2 linked regions of the Homo sapiens genome follow. The protein of the gene in region 1 purifies or fractionates together with the protein of each later gene. This does not show direct contact. Each region holds a gene or a part of one and is shown on either strand. Other genes may lie near its edges.

Region 1 (5,613 bases):
AGGATGAACCACTTACTTACCTTACTGAATCACACCAAGAACAGGTTTTTGGCCTCTCTGTTCAATGCTATATTACTCAGTGAAAAGACAATCACTGATAATCATTCAGTGCTACCCCCAAAAGAAACTCTGCTGCTTTACAAAGCCAAGACATATTCAGCCACTCTCATCTGTCCCTCTAGCCTTCAAAGCCCGTGATGGAGAAAGAACTCCAAAACTTCAGAGGATAATACAAAATCTTAGCTGGTCTTTGCTACCCAGGGCTCGGAGTCTAAAAAACAACTGGCAATGTTTTCACTTAATCAAGCACCTGCTGCATGTTTCTCCTTTACGGGATCTAGATCTATAAAGAATTTGCATCTCCATTGCCAGCATCTCATTCATAAAGTGGAAGTAATAGTAACAATGATCTACCTGAACTTTGGCAATCCCTAGAGGACAGTTTTATTGCCTATGATTAACACTCAAAACCAAGTTAAATCCAAAGAGCTAGAAATACTAGTTATAAAATAACTGTAAAATAAAATAAAATATGGCTATAAAATAAAGCCACAAAAGTTTAGAGCTATAAGAGAACATAGATTATCTAAACCCAGTGTTTATATAATTATGTATTTATGTTTAAGTTGTACTGGGAAAACACTTCTGTTTATAGATATAATAAACATGACTGAAGAAAAATAATACACAAACATTAATATAGTAGTATACCACGCAGCAAGCATCTCATGATATCGGAATGTCTGAAATCCAGGACACAATGGTTGACTCCACCCTCTATTTTTAGAGGTCACCTGACCTGATCAAGTAGTAGTTAGTAGTGGTAGAATACATTAGCAGAGCTGGACGTAGAGAGAACAGAACACCGAGATCCCCATCAGTCTTTCCTCCAGATTACAGGGCTGATCCATTCCATTAGACAGCTTAAATAACACTTCAACTCTATCACTGCAATGTTTCTTCCTACCAAAGAATTCTTGCCCCCAAAAACTAGTGGTAGGAAAACTGCCAGTCACCCAAACGCACCCTCCTCAGATTCAATGCCAAAATAGAAAACACAAGTCCAAATTCTAGGGCTTGGTGCAAGAGGTTCCATTCCGGGCAAGTGAGATGGGGCAGAAGTCAAGAGCTCTGCACTGGCAGGGACTCCATCTCTGGCTCAAACCAGGTGGATTCAAAAGCTCTGGTCCTGCTGCTAGAGCTGTGTGACTCAGAGGTAATGCTTCCCCCAGTCTCTGTTTTCTCATTTGCAGAATGAATCTAAGCACATGAGATAATTATATGTGAAGCAGTGCCTGGAATGAAGTACACCTCTGTAAGCACAGGAGCAGCAAAATATTCACTCCTACACCCTTAGTGCCCAGTGCAGTACCCAGTACACCACAATCACACCAAAAGTTTGCTGAGTGAAGCAGAGAACTCACTAAAGCCAGCCTGAGGTTCAATCAAAATTCCTGGGCCCAACCTGTAAGTGGGCCCCTAACTTACTCCAAACCAGGGACCCCCATCCCCTAAACCAAGAATGGCCTTGATTATTGACAAAGGAAGGGTCTGTTCATATGTTTCAGGTAAGGCACAGCCTAAGAATCTGCCTCTAAGAAGCCTCATCACATCACAGTCCTGTGTTCATTTCATCCCAAAAGATTGGCACTTTGGGCTGCCCTGGCATTCCATTGTCTCTCTCTTCATTTTTAGAAGCAACAAGCTGACAAAATGACATCTCAGGCACCTGACTTTTGTAAGTGCCCTTTAAAGAGGCCTGGGAACAATTCCCACAGCTACGACTCTACTCTGCTAAGGCAAGATTTCTTAGCTGAAAGGTATCACCTACTAAGAAATCCATCACAGAAACAGATACAGTAACAGAGTCAGAGACAATTCCACTATCTGCCTTCATGTGGTTCCTGATTCTTAAAACTAAAAGATGGACTGAGCTATTTTTAAATGGGGAGACTGAAAAGGCACCAAAAACGTTCTCACAATCCAAAGCACTCATCCCTAGAGCACGCTTATTTGGCCAGAAAAAGAAACTCTCTGGCTCTGCAAAAGTGAAGCAGAATGCAAAATTGCATCTCTCCCCTTGTACCAAAAGGAAAAAACGCAAAAATGGTTTTACAAAAGGTCCAAGAATCTTTGAAATACGTTTGAACTTCTTTCTGAGAATTATGGATATTCCTTCTCAGACCTTTACAAGGATAACGGAAGAGGTAAAAAGGAGAGCTTGGGAGCAGGAGAGGGAGAGAGTTGGGATATGTACATTCTATTTTTAAACCCTCGCCCACAGTTTAGAGTAAAGGAACACTCTGATTCTCTACTCCCACCCCTATCACCTTCTGCTAAACACAAGAATCAGAACCTGCGCACGTACTGATTCCAGATTTAGAGATTACTGGCTGCCAATACTCCAAGGAATCGCAAGCTAACCAAGCATTCCACCCAGGGAACCCGGCGGCCTGACTAGGCTGGAGCTGCGTACAGGGAGCGAAGCAGTCACAACCCACCTTTTCCCAAGGGGAGGCAGCGCCCCCTCGGCAGGGCACGCTCCATTCTCACGGTTGGGCACTCAAGGCTGAGCAACTCTGCCCCTAAGGGAGCTGGAGCTGTGGACACGATGGGATCTGCCCGCTGGCTGCGGCGCGCTCGGCACTCTGGCCCCACTGCTGGGACACCTGCGTGCCGCGCACGCCCACGCCCACCCGCGCTGCCCCAGAGCACCACCCGCGCTGGGTCACCTCCCGACCATCCCTGAACGCAAAAGGCGGAGCGACGGGTCTCTCTCTTCATCTGATGGTTGCTGGTTCGCCCGCTTTACGTATCCTTCCTGCCTCGGAGGCGTCGACACCCGTCCCCCAGTGTACCGGGAGCAGAAACCCGGCAGACGCGCGGGCAACCCGGGCTAAGCGCCACCTCCCAGTTCCTCCCGCCCCGGAGCCGCGTCCCCGAGGGGCTCGGGACACTCACTCTTGAGCGCGCTTATGAGTGACTTCCCGTCCTTGATGAGCTCCTTGATGAATTTGTTGGTCTTGTCCAGCTCTGCTTCGTGCGACTTGAGCGTCTCTCGGAAGTGCGGACTATCGAGGCAGCAGTCGCTGAACTCGAGCGCTGGGAGCCCCATGGTGCGCGCGGCGCCCAGCCGGGGGGCGCGCCTCCGCCGGGGCCCGGGCCGCCCGCCGCCCAGAGCACTCACGCGGCGGGACCCCGGCCGGCTCCCCCGACGGCCGCCGGCTCCACAGGTGTGGCGCTGGCTCACTCCGCGCGCGGTGTCCGCCGGCGCGCAAGACTCCCGAACCGAGCTCGGACCCGGCCGAGGTGCTGCTGTTCCGGGCGCGGGCAACGGAGCGGATCGCGAGCAGGAAACGCAGCGCGGACCCGCAGCGGCGCCGGGAAGCGAGCGAGCGGGCGAGCGAGTGCAGACGCCGCCTCCCCGCCTCCTTCGCTAGCTAGCTCTCGGCAGCCTCGAGCGCCCTCTCACAGCAGCCTCGGCCGCCCCGCCGGTGTCTGGGCCGCTCGAACCTGCTAGCGATGACTTAATCCCCGCCGGGCCAATCAGCGCACCCTCCCCTGCCCGACCCTCAGGCCGCCCGAGGACGCCCGGCCCTTCCGCGGTCTTGATCCAATCAAAGGGGCCTGGAGGCAGGGTCTGCGGCTGGGGGCGTGGCCCTCGCCAACGCCTAGGTCCGCAGCGCAAACTCCGCCTCCTCTTGCCCTCCCAGCGTTGCAGACCCCGAAACCTAGGGGTGAGCGTTGCTGTGCACCCGCCCCCGCTACCTTGCCCGCCTGCTCCAGCCCGAATCCGAGCCACGCATGGCGAGTCTGCTGGTCCTGGGGGCCGAAGAGCCTCGATGTGCCAAGCATGAAAAACCTGGGGACTAGGGCTGCAGTTCACCACCGCCTGCCCTGCACTGCGGGGCAACCGATTTTACACTCAAAATACAGCCCCCTGCTCCGGGAGAATCCCGAGCGACCAAACGCTCCTCTTCCAGTCAGGCAGAAAAATGTTATTTGCATCTTAAAATTACCAGCTCTTGCCTGCAGTCTTCCCGCCCCCTACGGTCCGTCCCCCTCACGGCCACTCCTGCTCAGAACCCGCCCACGGTTCCCCTCAGCCGAAGGAGCTCACATCATTACTAGAATTTCAGCCGCCTGTTATTTTCCTGCTCTGCATCTAGCACAATTTTACATAATAAGATGACAGTCTACTGCCTGTCATCCTTCGCTACACGGTAAGCCCCACGAGGGCAAGTGCCCCTGCAATTTTCTTGTCCGCTGTTGCATCCTGGCACCTAGCACAGTGGCTGGCATTTAATAACAGATATTGAGCACTTACTATGTGCTGTGTGTGCTACGGTGATTGATAAATGTAGAATAAATGAATGGATCCTTTCCCAGAGCCATCTCCACCTCCCACGCCCAGTGCGTTGCCCTGTAGTCCCTCTGTTCGACCGCAGGACTCAATTCTGGCATCTCACTCGTTGCACTTGTCAGGCTGGGTCCCACAGGGTGTCTAGTGCTGAATTGTTAACTCCTGGAGGATAGGGACTGTCCTTGAATAAATTATCTCTATGTCTAGGAACCAGCAGCCCTCCTTCAGCTACGTGGGGGCTTCATGTTTGTTTGGGTTGGTTTGTTTTTTAAATAGGTCTGCTATGTGCAGGCACTAGCCTAGATGGTAAGAATACAAAGATGAATAACAGAATGAATTTAGCTGCTGGTGGTATTAGGTGAGATGGAAGCAAACAAGCGATAACCATGCCTTGTGATAGGATAGAAGGCCTGGGTGCTTGGGAACATGGATTTTTCACTCAGGAGGGGTCAGAGGTGTCCCATCTATATTAAGAAAGCAATTAATGTATTAAATTCATAAATGGAGCATGGTGGCTCACACCTGTAATCCATAACTTTTGGAGGCCAGGTGAGAGGATTGCTTGGGGTCAAGAGTTCAAGACCATCTTGGGCAACACAGCGAGACCCCCCCCATCTCTACAAAAAATTGTAAAATAAATAAGTAAATGTATAAATAAGTGAATGTGATCTCTTTGATAGGTGTATCTACAAATTTAGACTTGATAGCAGGTCCAGACAGCTATCTGATAGATAATTACAACCCAAAAACAATTGTTCTTCACTTGCCAAAGATGAGAAAGATCTAGAATGGAAACCCTATGAAAGTAAATCTGTTTAATGCTTTATCTTGAGCACCTAAAGGTAGGTGTTCTGGTTATCTATTAATACAGAATAAATGATACCAAAAGTTAATGGTTTAAGACAACAGCAATCATTTTATTTTCTCTCACAATCTCTGTGGGTTAGAAATTTAGGGAAGCCAAAGGCTTGAGGTCTCTCATGTGATTGCAGTTGGATGGTGACAGGAGCTGGAGGAGTGGATGGTTAGCTGGGCATCCCACTTTTCAGGTAGACTCAGGGCTTCTCCATATGGCCTTTCTCTGTGGCCCAGTTTAGGCTTCCTCCCAGTATGGCAGCCTTAAGGCTCCAGTGTGAACATATACAGCTCACAAGGAGAAAGGTGCATCACCTTTTATGACCTAGCCTTGTGAGGTGAGAGGCCTGCAGGACTTGTTTTCCAATCACAACCCCACTGATCAAACCAGGATT
Region 2 (4,559 bases), on another chromosome or scaffold:
TATAACATCTTGAAATCATGAACATTTATTTTTTCTGGTTTACATTACATAGAATCATGACTATTTTACCTGATTTGCCTTAACTAGCTCAATTTATCTTGTGCTATGGATTTGCACTCAACCATTCTACTTTCCTATGTTTTAAAAGCAGCATTTTAGTCAACAATTGTGAGTGCTCATCACCCTACATGCTGTGAACAAAGTCAAGGTACTTTATTCTTATTTCTTATCCTATATTCTGTGTTACAGAAAAACTACTACCATAAACAAAGCACCAACCAGCCACAGCAGTTGTGTCAAGCATGACAATTGGTCTAGTCTTCACATTTTATTAGTAAGTCTATCAAGTAAGAGATGAAGGGTCTAGAAAACTAGACACAAAGCAACCAGGGTCCAAATCACCAAGGTAGATCTGTGCTTAGCTAAAGGGAAACACCCGAAGATTCATTATTTGGATACAGACTATGGGACCATCTTATTTGAAGGAAGCTTTGATTTGCCTGTTCTTCAGTGGCTGAGCTGGGCGCCAGTTGTCCACCATCAGTTCTTCGGGTTCACCCTCCCCATTGAAGTTAAGTTTACGGAATTTCAACACCTAAAAGACACAATAAAACATTGATAATTAATGTTTCACAATGGTATTCAGTTATATACTTGTGTTATATCTTTAAATACATTCCCCGGCCAGGCGCAGTGGCTCATGCCTGTAATCCCAGCACTTTGTAAGGCTGAGGCATGAGGCGGGTGGATCACTTGAGGTCAGCAATTCGAGACCAGCCTGGCCAACATGGTGAAACCCTGTCTCTACAAAAAAAAAAACACACACACACACACACAAAAATTAAACAGGCGTGGTAGAGCACCTGTAATCTCAGCTACTCAGGAGGCTAAGGCACAAGAATCATTTAAACCCTGGAGGCAGAGATTGCAATGAGCTGAGATTGCGCCACTGCACTCCAGCCTAGGCGACAGAGCAAGGCTCTGCCTCAAAAAACAGAAACAAAAACAAACAAAAATTACATTCCACAACATTCAGTGCTGTGCATCAATGGCCAAAATTCAGTTTGATTCCTAATGAATACATAATCACATATAGATTATGTATGTATGCTTTAATATAACAAACCAATTTATACAAAATACACAAATTCGTTGGGGTCATTTTTAAGGGAAATTTTCAGTGACCTTCTAATTTAAAAATCTAACATCAAAAGTCTATAAACTCATACCTTTAGATGCAAAATAATAACAATTTTAGTTCCAAATTAAAGCTTTGTTTTCTGCCCCAGGGAAGACAAACTACCACATCCATACAATTAGATCAAGTGATCAGGACCTGTAAGCTCCATGGGCTGAGTGACGAGCTGGCATCTCCAAATACACAAAAACACGGAAATGAATTTGCCTAGGCTGATTTGCCTTAAGAAGCTCAATTTATCTCATGCTATGGATTTGCACTCAACCATTCTACTTTCCTGTTTTAAAAACAGCATTTTAGTGAACAATTGTGAGTGCTCACCACCCTACATAGCCCTACTGGCATTTTGCCAATATATGCATTTAACATTAGAACCCCTTGTCACTGGTTGATTTTTATTCCCTTATAAACTTGTTTCAGTTTACTGGCCACCACTGAGATACAGGCAGCTGTTGAACAGTCTCCCACTTCTTCAAGGTTCTCAAAAAGTGCTACTTTCCCCCCTCTAACCAAGACGTGATCCAAATGCAAAAGGGTGGTTTGGACAGTAATATAGCAGCCCATGAATCAACAGCCTTTAACCTGATCTCTTTTGTCCAGTAATAGTCCCTCAATCACCCCCGTAGAGCCACCTTCCATGCACATACATTATAACATGCACAGCTATGGTTACTGAATGCAAGGGAGCATTCTAAGGATATATAGGGTTGATTCGTTACAACAGAATTCCAGCAATCTGAAAGAGAGTCTGTTCATAAAGTGTAAACAGGTCAAACTTTTGATCAAACCAGTATAACCGATTTCTGCTACTCACTGCACCAATTAAACTACACTGTCACATTAGTCAACTTGACTCATTGTTTTAGCATCACAGAGACAGAGCCTGGGTATAGAAAATAAAGGTAGCAGAATTAGCAGACCCATTTATACTGCTTACCTAAAATCCACGCCCCCCCATACTTCCTCATTAACAGACATCCGCCCTCTCCCTGTAAGCCTCAGTGGGGTAAACCTGCAGGTCTTAACTGACTGTGATGATCACATTCCCGGGCTAGGGACTGAGCAAGAAACACAATTCTAGCCAGTGAGAAGTGAAAGGTTTTCTAGGGGCCTTCAGGAAAGAGCTTCTCTGCTCTTAGGAAGCCAATGGAAGAGGTATTCATTTCCTCCTCAAGAAGTGGTTATATCTAGATGTGATGCTCAAAATGCTATTACAACCACCTTGAGGATGAAGTCACCAATTGGCAAGGCCAAGTCAAGGGACTCAGATAGAGGAGGACCTGCAGCCCTAGCTTCCTGAGCTGAGCATGATCCTTCCTCCAGATTCCATGTTATAGGACAAAAAAAAGAGCCCTATTGGTATTTTGCCAATATATACAATTAACATCATTAGTTTAATACCACTTTCAACTTTAAAGAGCAAACTCAGGGTACAGGGATTAATGCAGTAGGTTCAACTGCCCTTATCTATATGTGTATTTCTGCCTGTGGGTGTGTATACACCATAAATCCATTTGTTATAATGGCTCTAAATGTCAGACTATTGCTTTAAAGTTGCATTGCTCTCAGTGAAAGAAGAAAAAAAAATTCATGTTTTAAATTATAATGTAAACACTGCATCTACAAAAAGAAGGGCATTATAATCTTTCCTTACGCTACACTTCAAGAAGCTTACTCAAATATGTTATTACTACAAGGTCAATCTTCAAGTGACATACCAAGCATGCTATTTTTTAGGCCCACTTTGATATGCTACAAGTAATTTTCCAGTCAGATACATATTTCCTTTAAAGAAAGATATGAAGTATCTTCAGCATTCATAAGTTCATATTCTAAGGGAGGACACAGGAATAGAATCCTTGCTCCCAGGCCTGATTCTGTTGCAAGGTAGCTGAGTGGAAAACACTTCAATTTTCCTGCATCTCAGACTGTTGATCAATGTGATTCAAGCCAGTGAAATGAGAAAGTTGGACAACATGATCTCTATTGCACATTGCAGCTCTAAACCTCTATTATTCAGCATTTTTGTAGGTTTAAATCACACTACCACTACTCACATAGTTACCATTTTCAAGACTGTTGGCTCCTAAAGCTATCCTTAAATTATTCAGGATCCATCCTCTTGTGAATCCTAAGGAATGTTCACTTTCTACATTTCAACTGTGCGCTAAGAGGTAAGTCTAGGAAAAACTCATTTGTATCCACTTTAGTGGCTGCTCATCAGTGACTTAGAAGCTGCACTAATCACTTGACGATCACACACTATATTTTATTGGAAATGTAAGAATACCTGCTCTAAGCCTCTAAAGCAACCTGGAGTGAGTTTTAATAGATACATGTTCTCCAAGGGATGACTCTCATCTGTCAGGATTCAGAAATGCATTCTGATATAAATAAAATAGCAGAAAGCCCTTATGTGAGTGAGTAGTAGGCTGGTAACTCACTGATACCTGCGTAACCTTGAATATGAACTCTCACTTTTCTAAGCCTTAGTTTCCTCATAACTGGCAAAAAAAAAAAAAGGCATTTATTAGGTGACAGACATCTTTCTCATTGAATCCTTACAATGACTATTCAATTTTAGAGACTAAACGAACTAAGTTTATAGTTAATAACAACAAAGATTTACTGAACGCTGTTTATTTGCTAGGCACCATCAAAGGCACTATTTCCATAGCAAGAAGTAGCAGGAGAAGGATTAAATCTCAGTTCTCTCTCACTCTGGAGGCCAAGGTCTTCTGCCTTGACTAAATGCTCCACCCGTAAACAGACCTGTCATTACAAAACAAACCTGCTCGCTGCTGACGCTGATGGGTTCCTTGAGCACAATCCAGGTCACACATTCCAGAAGAGGAGGGGTGGTCAGTGAGCCTGGGTAGGTCCAGTAATCCAAGGATTCAGGAAGGAGGCCACGAGGATCGAAGTTAGTGAAGTCAGCACTCTTGCCCTAGAACAAGGCAAATACGCAGCTTCAAACTATCACATTGACAGAGTAGGAGGAAGGTAGGAGAGCAGCAGACACAAATAGGTATACTCCCCTCTGATGGTCAAAAACACTTTTTAAAAAAGAGGTTCTATATTCACTGGCAAACAAAATAAAGAGAAATTAACAGAAGACATTCAACTTGAAAATATGTGGCAAGTCGTAGTAAAAAAAAAAAAAAACTATTTTCACATGTCCATTTTTCATCTTGGCCTTTTATCTAAAATGATCCCTTACATTCCCCATTAAGTCATTAGCTGATCACACCCAGTATTTAAAGTGAGACTGCTGCCACTAAAATGAGGTGACTTCAAGTTGCAATAACAGAAATATGGTATCCTGATGAGGAGGTGATTTTCTTGCTCTAGGTCAGAATCA

The links. The genes of interacting proteins can lie anywhere in the genome.
Region 2: the proteins of ARHGAP26 (region 1) and CA2 purify together in Homo sapiens (affinity purification with mass spectrometry; one large-scale study listed by BioGRID and IntAct). This does not show direct contact.

Annotation. Positions count from the first base shown.
Region 1 is NC_000005.10:142,768,264-142,773,876, reverse strand, and holds the start of ARHGAP26 (rho GTPase-activating protein 26), read right to left. Parts: upstream 3,501-5,613; 5' UTR 3,116-3,500; coding exon 2,962-3,115; intron 2,651-2,961; exon of another isoform or gene 2,548-2,650; coding exon of another isoform or gene 2,502-2,547; intron 1-2,501. UniProt on the Homo sapiens protein: GTPase-activating protein for RHOA and CDC42. Facilitates mitochondrial quality control by promoting Parkin-mediated recruitment of autophagosomes to damaged mitochondria.
Region 2 is NC_000008.11:85,476,706-85,481,264, reverse strand, and holds part of CA2 (carbonic anhydrase 2), read right to left. Parts: intron 4,146-4,559; coding exon 3,990-4,145; intron 596-3,989; coding exon 476-595; 3' UTR 1-475. UniProt on the Homo sapiens protein: Catalyzes the reversible hydration of carbon dioxide. Can also hydrate cyanamide to urea. Stimulates the chloride-bicarbonate exchange activity of SLC26A6. Essential for bone resorption and osteoclast differentiation.